Linked DNA regions of Homo sapiens. The protein of the gene in region 3 purifies or fractionates together with the protein of the main gene of each other region. This does not show direct contact. Each region holds a gene or a part of one and is shown on either strand. Other genes may lie near its edges.

Evidence for each region.
Region 1: the proteins of GMFB (region 3) and RRM2B purify together in Homo sapiens (affinity purification with mass spectrometry; one large-scale study listed by BioGRID and IntAct). This does not show direct contact.
Region 2: the proteins of GMFB (region 3) and MTR purify together in Homo sapiens (co-immunoprecipitation; one large-scale study listed by IntAct). This does not show direct contact.
Region 4: the proteins of GMFB (region 3) and ARPC1A purify together in Homo sapiens (co-immunoprecipitation; one large-scale study listed by IntAct). This does not show direct contact.
Region 5: the proteins of GMFB (region 3) and PC purify together in Homo sapiens (co-immunoprecipitation; one large-scale study listed by IntAct). This does not show direct contact.
Region 6: the proteins of GMFB (region 3) and OPALIN purify together in Homo sapiens (co-immunoprecipitation; one large-scale study listed by IntAct). This does not show direct contact.

What each region holds. Positions count from the first base shown.
Region 1 is NC_000008.11:102,228,962-102,232,461, forward strand, and holds part of RRM2B (ribonucleoside-diphosphate reductase subunit M2 B), read right to left. Parts: intron 3,344-3,500; coding exon 3,188-3,343; intron 1-3,187.
Region 2 is NC_000001.11:236,847,292-236,850,791, reverse strand, and holds part of MTR (methionine synthase), read right to left. Parts: intron 449-3,500; coding exon 269-448; intron 1-268. UniProt on the Homo sapiens protein: Catalyzes the transfer of a methyl group from methylcob(III)alamin (MeCbl) to homocysteine, yielding enzyme-bound cob(I)alamin and methionine in the cytosol. MeCbl is an active form of cobalamin (vitamin B12) used as a cofactor for methionine biosynthesis.
Region 3 is NC_000014.9:54,473,985-54,476,482, reverse strand, and holds the end of GMFB (glia maturation factor beta), read left to right. Parts: 3' UTR 1-1,998; downstream 1,999-2,498. UniProt on the Homo sapiens protein: This protein causes differentiation of brain cells, stimulation of neural regeneration, and inhibition of proliferation of tumor cells.
Region 4 is NC_000007.14:99,363,898-99,366,762, forward strand, and holds the end of ARPC1A (actin-related protein 2/3 complex subunit 1A), read left to right. Parts: intron 1-1,993; coding exon 1,994-2,032; 3' UTR 2,033-2,365; downstream 2,366-2,865. UniProt on the Homo sapiens protein: Probably functions as a component of the Arp2/3 complex which is involved in regulation of actin polymerization and together with an activating nucleation-promoting factor (NPF) mediates the formation of branched actin networks.
Region 5 is NC_000011.10:66,871,384-66,874,883, forward strand, and holds part of PC (pyruvate carboxylase, mitochondrial precursor), read right to left. Parts: intron 777-3,500; coding exon 641-776; intron 489-640; coding exon 304-488; intron 98-303; coding exon 1-97. UniProt on the Homo sapiens protein: Pyruvate carboxylase catalyzes a 2-step reaction, involving the ATP-dependent carboxylation of the covalently attached biotin in the first step and the transfer of the carboxyl group to pyruvate in the second.
Region 6 is NC_000010.11:96,349,003-96,352,502, reverse strand, and holds part of OPALIN (opalin), read left to right. Parts: intron 1-1,092; coding exon 1,093-1,125; intron 1,126-2,676; coding exon 2,677-2,796; intron 2,797-3,500. UniProt on the Homo sapiens protein: Central nervous system-specific myelin protein that increase myelin genes expression during oligodendrocyte differentiation. Promotes oligodendrocyte terminal differentiation.

The DNA.
Region 1 (3,500 bases), on a different chromosome or scaffold from region 3:
TAACAAACCCTCGGCTGGGCACGGTAGCTCACGCCTGTAATCCCAGCACTTTGGGAGGCCAAGGTGAGTGGATCATGAGGTCAAGAGATTGAGACCAACCTGGTCAACATAGTGAAACCCTGTCTCTACTAAAAATACAAAATTAGCTAGGCATGGTGGCGCATGCCTGTAGTCCCAGCTACTTGGGAGGCTGAGGCAGGAGAATCGCTTGAACCCAGGAGGAGGAGGTTGCAGTGAGCCAAGATCGTGCCATTGCACTCCAGCCTGGCAACAGAGTGCAACTCTGTCTCAAAAACAAAACAACAACAACAACAAAAAAAAAAAAACCCACAAAGCCTCAAGCCTCAATCTCTTTGACCTTTCCAAAAAGGACTAATGTCCCAATCTTTTAATCACATGCTATTTTCCAAATCCTTTTTCCCACTAATTTATTCTTTAAGTGTTTGCTGAGCACTTACTGCACACCTGACACCGTGCTAAGCACTGGGGATACAACGGAGCAGGGTGGAGGAAATATTTGTCTTCATCTTTTAAAATATGCAACCTAAAAATCAAGTTCTGTTCTATTAAAAGCTCAACTCAGGTTTAACTGAAGGACATCTTCTTCATTCATATATATTATAACCCCTCAGGTTTTTTTTCGGAGACAGTCTCACTCTGTTGCCCAGGCTGGAATACAGTGGCATGATCTGGGCTCACTGCAGCCTCTGCTACCTGGGCTCAAGCGATTCTCCTGCCTCAACCTCCTGAGTAGCTGGGATTACAGGCACCTGCTGCCACGCCTGGCTAATTTTTGTATTTTTACTAGAGACAGGGTTTTACCATGTTGTCCAGGTTGGTCTCAAACTCCTGACCTCAAGTGATCTGCCCACTTTAGCCTCCCAAAGTGCTTGGATTACAGGTGTGAGCCACCATGCTCGACCTCTTATATATTATATATTTGATATTAAATGTTAATATTGTAAGATGCTTCCTCTTAAATATTAAAATTATTTCTTTGAACACTCAGTTTCAAAGGTCTTCTAAATTTTATTTACACTACATTGGAAATATTCCCTTCCTGCCTAGCTTTTTCTTATTTGAGCAAATTCTCAATTTCATCATTTAAATACTGATTCCAAACTAGACAATTATCATAACTGCCTGAGTGGCTTTAAAGAAAAAAGTCCCAAACCCCAGACTTTTGTCTTTTGATCAGGGTTTCTGTTGATCAGCCATATTTAAGAATTAAGCTCAACCATTTAAGCTGACTAAATGGTAACTTACATAATTTGTAAATGAAAAATATGTGGAACTAAAAATGTGTTTGATTTATCTTCAAAATATGTATTTGAATCGTCCTATAATTAGCTACAGAACACGTACCAACCTGTAGATTTCAGTTTTTAAAAATTAGTGTTGCTTTGTTACAGGTCACATATTACCTTTGCTAAAAGATGCAAGTTAATTTCCAAATGAATTTCAAGAATCCTAAGAATCCTAAGTACCTTTTTAACATAATGAACGAAAAAGCCACCTGCGTATTCCACTCGTTCTCTGAACCGTATCTAACAAAAAACCTTTCTAAAAACCACAGACAGTTAGGGACAGTCAGGTGTGTCAAGCATTATGACCACGTATGAAAATATTGGGTGTTTGTTTTTGTGTGGTTTGGTTTTTTGCTCTATATGTCAACTATAATATAACAAAGATGTTGACAATATAACACTACAATATAACAAAGATGGGTAAGTGGGTAAAATTAGTGTAATAGAAGCTTCAAACACTGGTGCCTTCTGATTTCTAGGTTAAATTTTCCCCCTTCTGTGCATAAAATAATAGTTTACATTTATTTAGTGCCTACTAAGTGTCAACTACCATTTTAAATATCTCATAAATCCTCATAACAACACAAATAGCCAAGTACAATTAGCCTAATTTACTGATGAGGATACACAGAGAGGTTATGTAACTTTCCCAGTTCCATAGCTAGTAAGTAGTGGCACAGGATTTGTACCTAGGCAGTCTGACCCCATAGCCTGCATTCTTAACAGCATGTGTTTAACATTTATAGAATTAATGTCTTGAAAAATAGATTCAAATCTATCTATCCAAATAGATACATCTATCTATAGAGATACATATACAAACATATACAGAACAAGAGTGCTGTATAGGTATCACCCATTATATTTAAAGATCAAGACAATAACTATTTGTTCAGTTAGACTACAGGGCAATCATTTTCATGACCACTGTCCTTACCAACCAGCAAATATTTTCTAGTTTGCTGTGTTCAACTGATCTCCCAGGTGGAATTAACAAAAAGCTTTCTACAGCTGATCTATTAGTGGCAACTCTGTCACGTTTGATGTAGCTGAGGGCAGGGCCAAACTGGGAGCAGCACTGTGAGTTCCACCTGGCTGACTCGGGAGTGAGTCCACAGCCTAGAGGATCAAACTCTTCATGCAGCGGCTCATTTTGTACAATCAGATAAATCTCTCAATTGAAAGCAGAGTTGCTACAGCTTTCACTCATTTTTTGACTACAGCTGCAATTTTACTTATTCTGCTGACCTTGTAAGACTAGTCAGACAAGTCTTACTTGGCCATATCAAACTAAAAGTCTGTTTAAAAATAGAAAATGTTGGCTGGGCGTGGTGGCTCATGCCTGTAATCCCAGCACTTTGGGAGGCTGAGGCAGGTGGATCACAAGGTCAGGAGTTTGAGACCAGCCTGGCCAATGTGGTGAAACCCCATCTCTACTAAAAATACAAAAATTAGCTGGGCGTGGTGGCTGGCGCCTGTAATCCCAACTACTCAGGAAGCTGAGGCAGGAGAATCGCTTGAACCCGGGAGGTGGAGTTTGCAGTGAGCTGAGATCGCGCCACTGCACTCTAGCCTGGGTGACAGAGTGAGACTCTGTCTCAAAAAAAAAAAAAAAAAAGAAAAAGAAAAAAAATGTTCTAATATATTGGAAATAAAAATCTGGCAGAATTAGATGCCATTGTTGCAGCAGAAAACTTGTTTATAGATAGTAATCTAAACTAAAACATTGAGAACATCATATTTAGTCTCAGTAATTCCAACACTTATCTTCTACAACTGATCTTCTTCAATGTATAAGTTAAAGTTATTCAATATCCTGTAAAACAAGAAGGAACACTGCACTATAGGATGTGAATGCTCTTGGAGGCAATGCCACGTACCTCTTCTGCTGTCCAGAAGGAAGCCTGTGCCTGTTTATACATTTTCCAAATATCAGGGTACTGGATTGGAAAGATGACAAACCGGCGAGAACTCTTTCTTAGGAGTGGCTCTTCATTTGACTTTATTTCACTTTCGTTGGTGTCTGAAGATGATCTCTTTGAAAAATAAAGTACAAACACGCCTTTTATATAGACATTTCTTCTTTATTCATACCTAAACATACATCTAAGGAAGTCAGGGAGACGGCATTGGTTTGAGAGCCTGTCTGCCTGGGTTGAATCCTTACTGTTACCTGGTAGCTGACTAATACTG
Region 2 (3,500 bases), on a different chromosome or scaffold from region 3:
GGCGTGATCCCAGCTCAATGCAACCTCCACCCTCCTGGGTTCAAGCGAGTTCATCAGGCTCTGTTATGTTCTCCAGTCTGTTTGTTACACAAGTTAAAACTCTACTAAAGAAAAAAAATAAGGTCTCCTACATTTCAGAAAAACAATTTACTAACTAAGAATGTTAACATTTCATCAGCCAATAAATATATAAGTTAGTTCTAACCATTCATTAGACCCATGGGACAAATTTGAGCCATGACTTGGGAGAGAACATGCCTACACTTACTTTAATGACTTTTGTTGCATGGATAAAATTAATGGCATACAAGTTGTGTTCCTCCATTCCAGTCCCAATGGTTAGGATATTAGGGTCAAAAATAATGTCATTTGGATTAAAGCCCAGTTTTTTCACAAGCAGATGGTAGGCCCGGGTGCACACTCTGATTTTTGTGTCTGTTTCTGTTGCCTAGGGAAAAGAGCAAAAGATGTAGTTTGAAATAGAAAAATTATCTATTAAAATATTAATATTAAATACCTGTTATTTTATTTTAATAAAATATTAATATTAAAATATTAAGTGTTATACATTAGAGCACATTTCACTCACTGAAAACACTCAAGTGTCAATGCTTGGATTTCACAGAAATCTAAATGCCAAGCAGCTTCCGATCACTTATCAAATTATCTCAGAGGAGAGACTGGTTTAAAGATCTCTTTGTGTTTTCACAAACACAGCAGCTATACTCTTTCTGCAAAAAATCAAACCTTAAACATATACACACATATGGTATATTATGAAAAAGCTTCTAAAAATACATGCATATGATAAAAAATCAAATACTACTAAAGAAGAGATTAACATGTAAGTGCCCCTTCCTCTCTTGACCTGACAGCAGTGTCACAACCTATCACCCAGGAAACACTGCCATTGCTTTCTCAGATCTTCTTGCAAAAACATTCTAAGCATATTCAAGGATATGCATTTATTCCTCACCTTCACCCATTTTAACACTGGCCTAACATGTGTCTTAAGTCATAAATACAAATTAGTCTTTACCTTCAAAATAATGTCCCTAAAAGGCAAAACACTAACTCCGGCAAGGCTCATCCCCCAGCTGCTTCCCAAAAGCCTCAGAATCTCAGCCTCCATCTCCAATCTCATCTCCTACCATTTGCCCTCTCCTCTACTCCGCACCTCCTACATTGCTCCTTTGGTGTTTTTGAAACCCGTCAAGCTTGTTCCTCCCTCAGCAACTTTCATTTATTGCTGCCACTACCAGAACATACCATGACATGGCTTTGTGCTTCACAGAACTAAGGCTTCTGCCCAAGTGCCCCCTTTTCAGAGCCTACCTTAAATCACCCTCTCTAAACCAGCCACTTCCACCCTTCCCCACCTCCTCCATTCTTCTTCGGAGTATTTCTTTCCAGAAATTGTATTATTTTGGCAACATCTTTAGTATTTTTCGTTGTTTTATTACTTGTTAATTGGTAAACTCCTCTCCCCTAGATAGAATGCCAGTCTTGCTTTATCCCCAGTGCCCTGAGCAGTGCCTGTCAAAGTAGGTGCTCAACATTATGTATGAATGCTGCTTTTACTCAAAGTATTTCTGAACTTTGTCATGGAAACTGTCTTCAGATCAAATTTACAACCTCAACACAGGGTATTCACCAAATTACATCCTGAATTATTTCTGGTTGTATGAAAAATCAAATCTACTCTTAAAAAATGATTACTTGCTATCACTCCAGAGATAAGAAAAAATAAGTCACAATTCTGAAGGTCAATTCTCAATGAACGCGAAAAATGTTCTTGAAAAATGGCCAACCCTACTGCAATCTATATTGCAGACTTCTGTGGAGATGAGGGGGTAGGGACACGGACATAGGTCAAGTGCATCTAGTGAGGCCCTAGACAACAGAAATGAGGAGTAGGGGAATTATGAAAAGAACTCTCTCTTAGATCTAGCCTTTTGATCACTTACTACTTTGGTATTCTTTTTCAACTGTTTTCTTTGGTCTCTTTAATCGCTCTCTGCAGCTGGTGGGGTGAGACTTCACCTCTACTTGGGAGGGAAGTGCCTCCAGGACTTAGCAGACAAAATGGCCCAGGGAAAGGGAGACAGGAAGTGGTCTCTGTGGCCTCACTGCACCCAGGCTTTAGGGAAGGTGGCGAGCTTTCGTCTTCCTTAATGGAATTTTCTCAATGCTTACTTCCTCTGCCTTCAGTTAGAGTGAAAAGGTTAAGGTTGAGACTGAGATGTATGTCAGAAAAAACTGGTCAGAAACAGCCCATTTGCAGCTGCCTTTAGGCTTGAACTTTTAAAGTCTACCCTTCACCAGACAGCCCAATAGAGTTCTAGGCTCTAGGTTCATGGCTCATCTAAGCTCACTAAGAGAGAAGGCACAGGGGCGACCAATGCTACTAGTATTACTGAGTAACCTAGTCTGGTTGGTAGATGAAGAAGTCAAGGTCCTGGTCATTCCTCATCTGAGCCATGAATATTATCTGGCCAAGCAGGGCAGGTTGAAGTGAACAGTATGTTACCCACAGGAGAGTAGGGTGTAGGGCCCAGCTGTATACCAAAGACAGCCCTGCTTGTGGGACAAGCAGGTGCATCCTCACAGGACAGGAATTCATTTCTAGAACCAAAACAGAGTCATCAACTCTAACCTCCATAAGGATGAAGCCCTTGTCAAATTGTTCTCATGGCGTCTAGCACAGTATCTGTGCCACATTAACAGATACTCAACCTCTGTCACTTGATTAAACAATGACTCTCAGAGTGAACACGGCATTGGTGTACAGGCCTTTGTCAGGAGCAGGTCATATCTCATATCACGTAAGGTTCACCAAGCTTCTGTCTTACTCCTCACCAGGGCTGTGGGACAGACACACTAATAAAGCCTCAATCGTGCTGGTGGATTTCAGAGATCCAGAATAGAAGTTCAGTAAAACAACGGAATGGCAGCTTTACTCCATCAGGAAGGGCTTTCAACTCTGGTTGCACATTACAATACCCTGGAGGGATTTCTGTTTGCTTGTTTTTTATAATAGTAACACCTCACCCTGAACCAGTTAAATCAGAATCTGGAGATGGGGTCTCAGCAAGTGTTTTGTAAAAGCCCCTTAGTGATGCTAATATAAAGCCAGGTGAGAACCACCAACAGGTGAGATGTGGCACCTTCTTCAGTTGGAGTAGAAGAAAAACTCAGTGAGATTCTAAGCAGCAAGAAGGAAGGAATAAATGCCATTTATAGCTTTATCAAACAGGTTTACTCTTAAGCCATAGAGAAGCTAGACTGTGACCAGTGAGTAGAAGGCTTTACTTAAGAAGCTCATGGCTCAGATTCTGCTAAAATATCACACACTCAGGCAGTAATGCAATAAAACAATTTTTGATTTGGTCATCAAGGCAGACACTGTGAGGAAGAGAAGGACAATGTGTAGAAGACATCTAGATTCTTTAATGTAGTCTGACAAGGAGCAGAGATCGAACAGGGCTAACTTCAGAGGT
Region 3 (2,498 bases):
CAGGAAGTTTAAAAATTCTTTAAACAGGTATTTTGATATTGGAGAATAACATGCATATAATTCTGTAGGAATGCACATGTAATCCAAGTGAGTGGAGAGTGTTTTTAATGTTTTTGAATGAAGGAAATGAGGTTTTGTTTCACCTGTTTTGCAGCAGTAAGAGAAACTAGTGCTGCAAGAATGTATTTTTTAATGAAGTTCCTTATTTTGTCTTGCATGTTTTAGTTTTGCTTATTTTTAAATTTGGAGGTCCTCCATAATGTCAGATAATATTGACCTGCCATACGTTAGCACTCTTAGTTCCGCTACTGTCTTTAACAGGAGCAAAGAGCTGTGATAAACCATGCTTTTTTGAGCTTGTCTGACTCCTAATTAATAACATGTTTTTGGCAAGACAACAGATTGAGGTTAGAGGATCAGTAGGACATTTTTATTCCATCTGTCCTATGGGGAAATTTACAAATCCCGTGCTCTAAAATGTTCTCAAACATTTATATAGATTTCCCTTTCATCTTACTAAATTTTGCATTGTTCTTTTCAAGTATGTTTCGTATTTACTGTCTTTTTTTCTGCCATTTCCCAAATAATAACTCCAGATTTCATAATTCCAGTTTTTACATTCCGTTATCTTTCTGGTACAACCATTCCCATTCAGCCTTAAATCTGAGTCCTTTTTAGCAGCAACTTTTTTCCTGGGATCCTCCTTCGTGGTCTTCTAAGTCAGTGTTAGTTTTGAAATTTTTGGCCCTGCATAAGTTCTGCATAGCATCTAATGTCAAAATAGAACCAACTGGTAATCACAGTATTATTTAGTGTGGTTTCCATGACAACAAAAATACATACGAAGAAAACTTCTCAGGTTACTATGCTGAAATTCCAAAATGTCTGAGTTTTGAATAGTGATCACTTTGTTCTGGTATTGACGCAATTATATTAGGAAAAAAGTTGGTTGACTGTTTTTGTTTAATTGACTTCTAAAATGTTCAAATTGTCTAGTTCTAAAAGTTTACTAAATGCCTAGTGCAGTTAAACATACTCTTGTTTAAGTGTGTGTTGCTAAATTTTTTACTGTCATTACTAAATAATCTGTGTGGCAAAATGTGTGTCAGCACTTTTCCCTCCTTTTTTATCTCCTATTTTCAGGAGTCAAATGTAGCCATAAACTGTATCCTTGTCTGACACTTTAGCTAAAAATTTCCAGTTAGGGGAGTTTATTGCCAAATTAAATTTGGCTGTTCCCCCCAACCCATATAGATATTAAGGAAGGTGTACTTAAAAAATGTTTGGACTGCTTTTAAAACCTGAGCAATGTCATTAATCCATATGTGGACTAGTGATGAATAGATATTTTCATAAGAGTTTAAATGCTGATATTTGGTGGAAGTAGAGAGTAACTCATATTCTATCAATTCAAGTATTCTTACTATGGTTGCTTTCCCTATTTGTTCAATAGACTGATAATACTGGAATTTATAGAGTTTGAGCCATTACAACTTTTGTGAGGATGTGTTTCAAACATTTCTGGACAAATCTTATTTTGTATTTCTGGAAGAATGTAGTAATCTTCTAGACCGCTTAAAACCAATGCTCCCAAGCTGAATATTCTTGAGAAATTTGTTTTTATTATGCCATTTGACATTTCAAATCAGTGCTCATATACAGTAAACTTGTGATAGAAATTGTATTTTATTGCTTTTTGGATTATAATTCATATAAATATAATTACTTGAATATTGTTTGAGATCATTAACATGCCAGGGCAGTTCCCACTGATTTAGATGGTCCAAGATAATCTCATTCAGGAGGCTTGAAACATTAATGGTTTAGTCTTGTGAATTTTAACAGTTCTCTGTCATCGTTTAACAAAACCAACAACTGACACAACTCCTTAAGCTGTGGTTTCAGTCTCTGCTAGTTCATATTGCATGTTTATTTTGGACAGTCTTTTGTTAAGCATGGTGCTTGTACTGGTTTAAATAAAATGTTAACATTAAAAGACTTCCAGCTTTTCTTTTTTTACTCACCTCTTTCCCCCTTTGGAGTTACTGGTATGTACCTGGCTAGATTTGTGTGAGCCATAAACTTTATCTGGACAAACTGAGAGGCAAAATAAACAAGTCATTTGGCAGCTTGGTGGAAGGAGAAGATAATCAAGTTATAAAAATTTCTAAAACTTGGTCTGATGCTAAAATGTAGAAAATGTCAGTAAACAGTAGTAGGGACAGACAGAGCTATTTCAAACAATGAACGCTTGCTTTCAAAGGGAGAATTCGAAGTTAGGAGAGCTGTATACTTCGTAAGAAATCAAATTGAAGGTTTTTTTAATTGAATATAGCTTATCACTATGTATTAAACACCCATTGACAACCCGTCCTACCTTTATTACCAACTGTACTATATGGTATATGTTCAATAGGTATCTACTGAATGAATACAAATCACTAATAACATAGTTTTTAGAGTTTGCCATGTACTTGTGATTGTGTATGTTGTAATAG
Region 4 (2,865 bases), on a different chromosome or scaffold from region 3:
AAATCTAGTATACAGTTTAATGTCCTAATGTAAGACATTAAACTGGAAATCTCTCATTTTTTTTTCTTTCTTTTTGAGATGGAGTCTTGTTCTGTCACCCAGGCTGCAGTGCAGCGGTGCAATATTGGCTCACTGCAACCTCCGCCTCCCGGGTTGGAGCGATTCTCCTGCCTCAGTCTCCCAAGTAGTTGGGATTACAGGAGCACACTACAACACCCGGCTATGTTTTGTATTTTTAGTACAGACGGGGTTTCACCATGTTGGCCAAGCTGGTCTTGAACTCCTGGCCTCATGTGATCTGCCCACCTTGGCCTCCCAAAGTGGTGGGATTACAGGCGTGAGCCACCATGCCAGCCTTGGAGATCTCTCTCTTTTTTTTTTTTTTTTTTTTTGAGACAGAGTTTCGCTCTTGTTGCCCAGGCTGGAGTGCAATGGCAGAATCTCGGCTCACCACAACCTCCGCCTCTGGGGTTCAAGCGATTCTCCTGCCTCAGCCTCCCAAGTAGCTGGGATTACAGACATGTGCCACCACGCCCAGCTAATTTTGTGTTTTTAGTAGAGATGGGGTTTCTCCACGTTGGACATGCTGGTCTCGAACTCCCAACCTCAGGTGATCCACCCGCCTCAGCCTCCCCAAGTGCCAGGATTACAGGCGTGAGCCACTGCGCCCAGCCAGAGATCTCTTTAAAACCTAAAAGTCATCCGCAGAAGAACGGCACATTCTCAGTGAACTGGAATTTTTACTTCTAGATGTCCATTTATTCATTGAGGAAAAATGGAGTGCTGTTTTGGAAACAGGCCCTATTGGACACCAGCCCAGGTTTAACTATATAGATATATATTTATAGCTGACACTAATTAATTTAATAAACATTTAGTACATATCTCCTGGGTGCCATGCATGATGCTGAGCACTGAGAATATCCAATCTGAATGAGCCTGTCTGGTAGAAGAGAGAGGTGGATACGGGGGCTGGGTAGGGGATTCGGCAGAGCTCAGAAGAGAAGCCAGTGCCTCTGTTTTCACACAGAGGAATCTAGGGGGATGCGTGGACTGCAGGGAACAGGTTGCACCTGAGCGGCATCCTGAGTTGCGATGGGTTTTGGAGGGAGGGACTGTGAGTTGAGAAGACACAGGCGAGCATCCTCGGCTGCAAGTGCAGCACACCCAGGGCAGCCCTGGGCTTCAGAGAGCGCACACTGCCTCTGAGGCGCTGCCCGTGCTGTGGTCCTCCGGAAGCACAGATGGAGCTAGAAAAAAGAGCTCTAGGTAGCCAGGCGCAGTGGCTCATGCCTGTCTTCCCAGCACTTTGGGAGGCCGAGGTGGGAGAATCGCTTGAGGCCAGGAGTTTTGAGACCAGTTTGGGCAACATAGCGTGACCCCATCTCTATAAAAAAGCCAGGTGCAGCCAGGCGCACTGACCCACTCCTGTAATCCCAGCACTTTGGGAAGCTGAGGCTCGTTTCTCCTCACTGCTTTCCTGTCTTGAGCACAGGAGTTCGAGACCAGCCTGGGCAACACAGTGAGATCCTGTCTCTATTTAAAAATATACATATATATATTTTTAAAAACCAGGTGCAGTGACGCATGCCTTTAGTTGCAGCTACTTGAGAAGCTGAGGCAGGAGGATCACTTGAGCCCAGGAGTTGGAGGCTGCAGTGAGCTGTGGTCACACCACTGCACTCCAGCCTGGGGCAACAGAGCAAGACCCTATCTTTAAAAAAAAAAAAAAAGAGGAGTGAGGAGTGTGCCCAGAGCCTGTGTGTGTGGCAGTGGGGAAAAGGCACACCTGGCCTGGAGGAGCCAGCAGGGGGAGCCCCGGCCTGGAGTGTCTCTGCGGGGTGAGTCCTGGGAGATCCTGTTTCAGGTGGGGCAGGGCCAGGTTCAGGGTGGGGACAGGCAGAACCTTCCCTGAGGAAGAGGGAGTGGTGTCATACCTACCTCGGGGTAGACACTCCTCAGTGACATCAGTGCTCTTCCCACCTTTTCCAAGACCCTCGAGTCTTCCATCCAGGGCCTCCGGATAATGTGAAGCTGAGTGAGCCTCCGCCATCCAGCATGACAAACTGTGGCCGACCGCAGCTGTGCCGTGGCACGATGGCGAGGAAGCCAGCCCCAAGGAAACACTGAAAACACATATCACGCCAATGCCGTGTGGTTTTGTTTGAATATAAAATTGGTGAAAGTGTTGGTTTTTTTAAGGCAGTAATTTTTTTGTTTGTTTTTTTGCGATTTCATTCCATTCTTGACCAAAGCTTCTCTTTAAGTAGTTTATTATGGAAAATTGTCACACTAACTTAAAAGACAGGGTGAGGGAGATATGTAAATTGTCCACTAGAAAATTAAATAAAAGAACTGAATGTGGTTTTGGTTTTGTTTCCTTGTAGTATTTCAATTTTTAGTAGAAAAATATGAGCGAATTCTTCATTCGATTCAGTTTTTTTTAGGCAAAATCTTAGATCCTTGGTTTCTTAAATTGTACCATTCTATACAACCTTGAACCAAAAAGCACCATTTAGTGAGGGGTGAGAGAGAACCGTTTCTGAACATTGCAATACTTCTGCAAAGTAGGTTGTGTCGGTCTGTTTTGTGTTGCAATAAAGGAATACCTGAGGCTGGGTAATTTGTTTAAGAAAAAAGATTTATTTGGCACACGGTTCTGCCGGTTGGACAAGAAGCATGGTGCCTGCGTCTGCTTTTGGGGAAGCCTCAGGAAGGTTTTACTCATGGCAGAAGGCGAAGGGGAAGCAGGCGTGTCCCATGGCGGGAGAGGATGCAAGAGAGAGTGGGGAGGACCAGGCTCCTTGAAACAACCAGGTCATAGAGTGAGAACACACTCATTCCTGCCAGGGGGCACCAAGCCAT
Region 5 (3,500 bases), on a different chromosome or scaffold from region 3:
CAATAAACCGGACCCCTGCATCCTGGCAGGCCTGGGCGAAGTCCGCTCGCTCAGAGAGGAACCCGTAGCCAGGGTGCACTGCATCTACGTTGTTCTCCTGCAGGTGGGGGTCAGGGAGAGGACGGTACCTTGCAGTCCCTTCCAAGGCCTCGGCCAGCCTCTTCCCCTGCCTAACCTGCTGAGCTGCATCCGTTTACCCACCCACGCACAGAGGCGCTGAGCACGCCAGCCTCAAGAGACCCCCGCGGCAACTAAGACTCCCTGGTCCCTGCTGTCCAGGCCCAGCCAGGCCACTGGGCTCACCTTGGCCACCTTGATGATGTCTGGGATGTGCAGGTAGGCCTGCACGGGGGCCAGGCCGCGGCCGATGAGATAGGCTTCATCTGCTTTCTGCCGGTGCATCTGGCCCGTGTCCTGCTCAGAGTAGATGGCTACGGTGCGGATGCCCAGCTCCGTGCAGGCCCGGAACACACGGATGGCAATCTCACCTAGAGGGCAAAGAAACAAGAAGTTAGATTCCTAGGTCCTAGGAGAAGCAGAAAGGGGAGTGGGAAGCCAGGGCCTGGGGCAGTGAGTGGGAGAAGAATGCCAAGGCTGGGGCGGCCATGAGGCTCCTCTCACCGGCCCCACTGGTGCTCACCTCTGTTGGCCACCATGACTTTCTTGATGGGCTTATACTCCAGGCGCCGGACATTTGGGGAGGCAGCGGGGGCGGTGGAGGTTCGGCGGATTCCCAGGAGCCTCAGGCCCCCATGGACTGTTCGGAACTTCAGCATCTAGGGAGGGAAGTTAGAGCCCAGGTTAGCGCAGCCTCAGCACTGAGGCTCCTCAGAATGAGTGAGGGCCCTTCCCAACCCCACAGTGGCCCCACAGAAAGGCTAGCACCATCTACCTCCTGATGCCTGGCCAAGCCCAACATTTCCTGGCTCTAGAGAAGGGAGCAAATCCAACCCCAAATGGAACCCCCAGCTCAGCCTGATATCCTAACTGTGACTTTATTGTTGTAGAGACAGGGTCTCCCTATGTTGCCTAGGCTGGTCGCAAATGATCCTCCCACCTCAGCCTCCTGAGTAGTTAAGACTACAGGTGTGAGCTGCCGTACCCAGCATAATATGCACTATAACTTTTAAAAGTATCAGGTTGGCCCACCCTGGCTAACACGGTGAAACCCCGTCTCTACTAAAAATACAAAAAAAAAAAAATTAGCCGGGCGTGGTGGCGGGCATCTGTAGTCCCAGCTACTTGGGAGGCTGAGGCAGGAGAATGGCATGAACCCAGGAGGCAGAGCTTGCAGCGAGCCGAGATCGTGCCACTGTACTCCAGCCTGGGCGACAGGGCAAGACTCCGTCTCAAAAAAAATAAAAGTATCAGGTTGGGCGCGGTGGCTCATGCCTGTAATCCCAGCACTTTGGGAGGCTGAAGTGGGAGGAGCACCTTACATCAGGAGTTCGAGACCAGCCTGGCCAACATGGTGAAACCCCGCCTCTTACTAAAAATATAAAAATTAGCCGGGCATGGTGGCACACGCCTGTAATTCTAGCTACTCAGGAGGCTGAGGCACGAGAATCGCTTGAACCTAGAAGACAGAGGTTGCAGTGAGCTGAGATTGCGCCACTGCCCTCAGCCTGGGTGACATCAAGACTCTGTCCCAGGAAAAAAAAAAAGTATAATACTTCAGGTTGGGCACGGTGGCTCACACCTGTAAACCCAGCACTTTGGGAGGCCAAGGCACATTTGTGTGAGCTCAAGAGTTTGAAACCCACCTGGGCAACATGGTGAAACCCTGTCTCTACAGAAAATATAAAACTTAGCCAGGCATGGTGGCACATGCCTGTAATCCCAGCTACTTGGGAGGGTGAGGCATGAGAATCACTTGAGCCTGGGAGGTGGAGGTTGCAGTGAGCTGAGATGGCACCACTGTACCAGTCTGGGTGACACAGCAAGACTCCATCTTTAAAAAATATATATATATTATATATAATATATTATATATAAAATATAAAATATTATATATAATATAATATAAATATATATAATATATTATATATATTATATATTATATTATATATAAAATATATATTATATATAATATAATATATAATATTATATATATTATATAATATTATATATTATATTATATATTATAATATATATTATATATAATATTATAATATTATATAATATTATATATATATTTAAATCAACTGACGACAACTTATATCCCTGAATGCAAAGAGGCTTCAGAGGTTGGCCAGCCCTTCATTTGTAAAATGAAGGAAACCAAGGTACAGTGGAGACTAAAAAGACAGCTGCCCAGCACAGAGCCCAAGCCAAACCAGACACACTCTTTTCACCCCTGCATCTGGGCCTCATCTAACCATCTGATTCATTTCTTTCTTTTGAGACGGAGTCTCGCTCTTGTTGCCCAGGCTGGAGTGCAATGGCATGATCTCTGCTCACTGTAACCTCTGCCTCCCAGGTTCAGGCAATTCTCCTGCCTCAGCCTCCCAAGTAGCTGGGATTATAGGCATGCACCACCATGCCTGGCTAATTTTGTTTTTGTTTTGTTTCTTTTCTTTTTTCTTTTTTTTTTTGAGACAGAGTCTTGCTCTGTCACCCAGGCTGGAGCGCAATGGTGCGATCTCGGCTCACTGCAACCTCCGCCTCCTGGGTTCGAGTGATTCTCCTGCCTCAGCCTCCCGAGTAGCTGGAATTACAGGCACCCGCCACCACGCCCAGCTAATTTTTGTATTTTTAGTAGAGACAGGGTTTCACCATCTTGGCCAGGCTGGCCTCGACCTCCTGACCTCAGGCGATCCACCTGCCTTGGCCTCCCAAAGTGCTGGGATTACAGGTGTGAACCACCACGCCTGGCTGTATTTTAAATAAAGATGGGGTTTCACCATGTTGGCCAGGCTGGTCTTGAACTCCTGACCTCAAGTGGTCTACCCGCCTCGGCCTCACAAAGTGCTAGCATTACAGGTGTGAGCCACCACACCCGGCCGATCTGATTCATTTCTTAGAAAACGTTTAAAACACTTGACTCAGCCATTTTGTTTTAAGTAAGGAACATAAAAACATACTCAAGAAATGAAACAAATATTGCAAAAACCTTAGTGCCATATTACAGCCAACAACCTAGAAAAGGGGAAATAAAGACAGAAGAAAAAGAAAAGAGAAGAAACAAGGAAATAAGTAGAAGAAAGAGAAGAGGAGGAGGAGGAAAGACCCACAGCCAGGGGAGAAAAACAGAAAACCCCACTAGGGGCAGACCTTATGCCAGGCACAGTTCTAAGCCTTAGGAGTCGAGAACACAACAGTGAAGGGTTCTGCTCATGGAAGATGAATGGCAGTGAAAGGAGCAAAGAAAAGAAAAACAAGACACAAATCAGAACATTTCAGATCACAAGTGCCTGGAAGATAAGAAACAGGTGACATTTTGCGAATGATCTGGGGCGGGTGCAGGGGTTTGGGGGCTGGATATTAGAAAAGGCCTCTCT
Region 6 (3,500 bases), on a different chromosome or scaffold from region 3:
TTTCAGTGCCTGGTCATCAAAACCTTCTTTTGATGGGAGCTCTCTGGGAAAGAGGTCTGGGCTTGGAAGTCAAACATCCAAGTTCAGATTAGAGTTATGATTATCTGTGAAACCTTGGACAAGCCCCATAACTTCTCTGAGATCTATTACATTTTTTTTTTGTAAAATGGAGTTAATAATTGTCAAAAGTCCAAGCCCCAGGACTCCAGTATACTTGATGAGATTGCTGAGAGTATTAAATAAATAACAGATCTGGACAGAGCTTTGCAAAGTGTAAAGGGCTGACAAGAGTTCATAGTTCTGCTCCTCATTCAATCCTCCTAATAACCCTAGAGGCAGCTACTACTATCCCTGTAGATATTGTGTAGATAGAGACATGCAACCCCTTAGCTTGTAAATTGAGAAATGGCTGTTCTATGGCAGGCAGTGTGAGCCCAGGACCTGTGCTCTTAATCCCACAGCATACCACTTAGTGTAGTTTACATAGTTTCTCATGCAGAACTTTATTCCTTTAGATTTCCTAATCAAGGTAAACTCTTGCCTGAAATATCTTATAAATGAGTGAAATCCAATAACTCATTGGACCAATAACTCAGTGGACCAGAAACATGTAATGCATTCATTTCATGTAGAATTATCCCCAGGAGCATGGATATTTGACAACTTCTGCCATTTGTTTCATCACATACTTGAAAACAAGCAAGGCTTCCTTAAAGAGCCTTGCTTCCACCAGTATTTATATGTGTTTCCCTTCTAGCAATGGGGACAAGTAGGCCCAAAGTGTGCCAGGTGTGCTGACTAGGGACAGGAGGAAGCCCTTTTGAGTTGTAAAATGTGTCACGGTACATCCACAGGGTGAATAATGAAGACATTGCCTGAATTTCCTAATTCTTTTCTCCTTGTAGCCAAATTTTATTCCAATTCTTACCTGGGAAGCAATCAAGTTAGGTTCTGTTTGGTAGTTGTTAACAGAAAGTTTAGCAAAGGGATAAACTTTAGGCTTTATAGCCTAAACTTTGGCAGATTGTCTTGTATAATGTATATTCTATAGACTTTTTGTTCTTTTACAATATATGTTCTTTTTCCATACAGACGTCCTCTCCTGTCACAGGTGGGAAAGAAACGGTAACTATATCACTTAAATTTATAAAATGGGGATAATAATAATGCTCCATCCATCTTGAGCATTTGTTTTGAGCTTTAAAGTTTGATAGGTGAACTGTCACTAAGCACAGAATCTGGCTCAAGAATTATTCTTGACCAGCTCCGCTCAAAAGTGAGGGAGAACATGCAAAATCACAGATGGATTTCACAAAGGGTTGAGCAAAAGAAGCCAGACACAAAGAGTGCATATCTTATATTTGCATCTATATTATGCTGAAAAACAGACAAAACTACTCTATGGCAATAGATTTCAGAATAGTGGTCACGCACAAGGAGGCTGGAAGAGATTTGAGGGGGATCCTGAGATACTGCTAATGTTCTGTTTCTTGATCTGGGTGTTGGTCTTATGGGTGTATTCCTCATGTGAAAAGTCATCCACTTATATATTTGTGATTCATATACTTTATTATTCTTCAATAAAATCAATTTCCCCCTAAAGTGAAGTGAAGGTGAATCCATTATTAAATAACAGTTGCACTTTTATAGGGTTTCTGCAGATTATCTTCAATATTTCCAGATAGTCTGCAAATCTGAAAACTTATGTAACTAAAAGCATGACTATTTCCACTCCGATCAAAGCAAAATGGGAATTTGAAAATTAATAGGTTAATGCATTTATTGCAAATAAATTTTTTTTGAAAGGCTAAATGTCACTTTTTTATTTATTTATTTTTATTATACTTTAAGTTCTAGGGTACATGTGCACAACGTGCAGGTTTGTTACATATGTATACATGTGCCACGTTGGTGTGCTGCACCCATTAACTCGTCATTTACATTAAGTGCAAATAAATTTTTTTAATTCATATTAAAATAGTGTGGTATGGCTGGGCATGGTGGCTCAAACCTGTAATCCCAGCACTTTGGGAGGCCAAGGCAGGCAGATCATGAGGTCAGGAGTTAGAGACCAGCCTGGCCAACATAGTGAAACCCCATCTCTACTAAAAATACAAAAATTAGCTGGGTGTGGTGGCATGCACCTGTAGTCCCAGCTACTCAGGAGGCTGAGGCAGAAGAATCGTTTGAATCCAGGAGGCGGAGGTTGCAGTGAGCCAAGACTGTGCCATTGCACTCCAGCCTGGGCAACAGAGCAAGACTCCATCTCAAACAAAAAAAAAAGTGTGGTGTATAATAAAAGCTTTTATTTTTAGCCAAACAGGTGAAAATGACATCTAATTGTTGCTCTGAATTGTATCTCAGCTTTTCCTACATTGAAGAGACATTTGTATTTCTGTTCTAAAGAATACCTGTTCATATCCTTTGCCCATTTTTCTACTTGATCATTACTCTTTCCAACAGATTTAAACTGTGTAAATTAAGTCCTATGAAAGTAAGTCATTTGTCATGTGTGTTACAAACATTTTTGCACAGTATTTCATTACCCTTTTGATTTTGTATATGACGTTTATGATCCATGCAGATTTTTTGTTTTATTTTTATTCTATTGAATTTTTCCTTTATTATTGAAGACTCTGGGCTTCCTCTGACCCTGTGTTTTTCATTCTGTGCCAGGACTGTGGGCCCTCTCTTGGATTAGCGGCGGGCATACCATTGCTGGTGGCCACAGCCCTGCTGGTGGCTTTACTATTTACTTTGATTCACCGAAGAAGAAGCAGCATTGAGGCCATGGAGGTGATTACTAGCTTCTTTGGGTCCAGATGTATAGGCAGCCACCAGTATTTCAGTGAACTGGCTTTTGGACTAAGGGTGTCAGAATTCAGGGCCCATGTCTATTTCCTGAGGACAAGATGCTGGAAGTTTCTGGGCCATAATTTCCACTGCAGACATGACATTAGGCACCAGACAGAGCTGATTTGTCATAAAACCTTCAGGTCAGTTGAGGAATTCCTGACAAAGATGGTATTTGGGGTAACAAAAAGTAGCAGTGGAGAAGGATGTCTGTTGCCATGGCAAACACATGTCTGTACAGTGGGTGTGCTTTCTAAAGTTGAGAAACAAAAGCGCACAAGCTTCACAAAGAAAGGATGGAGATAACGTTAAGAAAGATAGGAGATGAAGAGGGGCTGAGGTGTCCATGATAGACACCATGATAGAATCACAAGGGAATCTATATCCTCCCCATCCAATCCACCCCTCCAATGCCAGACTGTTCTGGGGACTATGCTTAGAAATCAAAAGCCACCTAGACTCATATCCAACAAGGTTCCATGGTTGTGACACAACTGTGTCATGTGGACTCTGGGTTCTAATTCTATTCTCTATTTATTGACATTCAAGGTTGTTATCATATGGGTAAACATTAATTAAGAGATTGAAAATTGAGGTTCTAAACCTGACTCTGCCACTTTATGATTTATATGATCCTGGACAAGTGA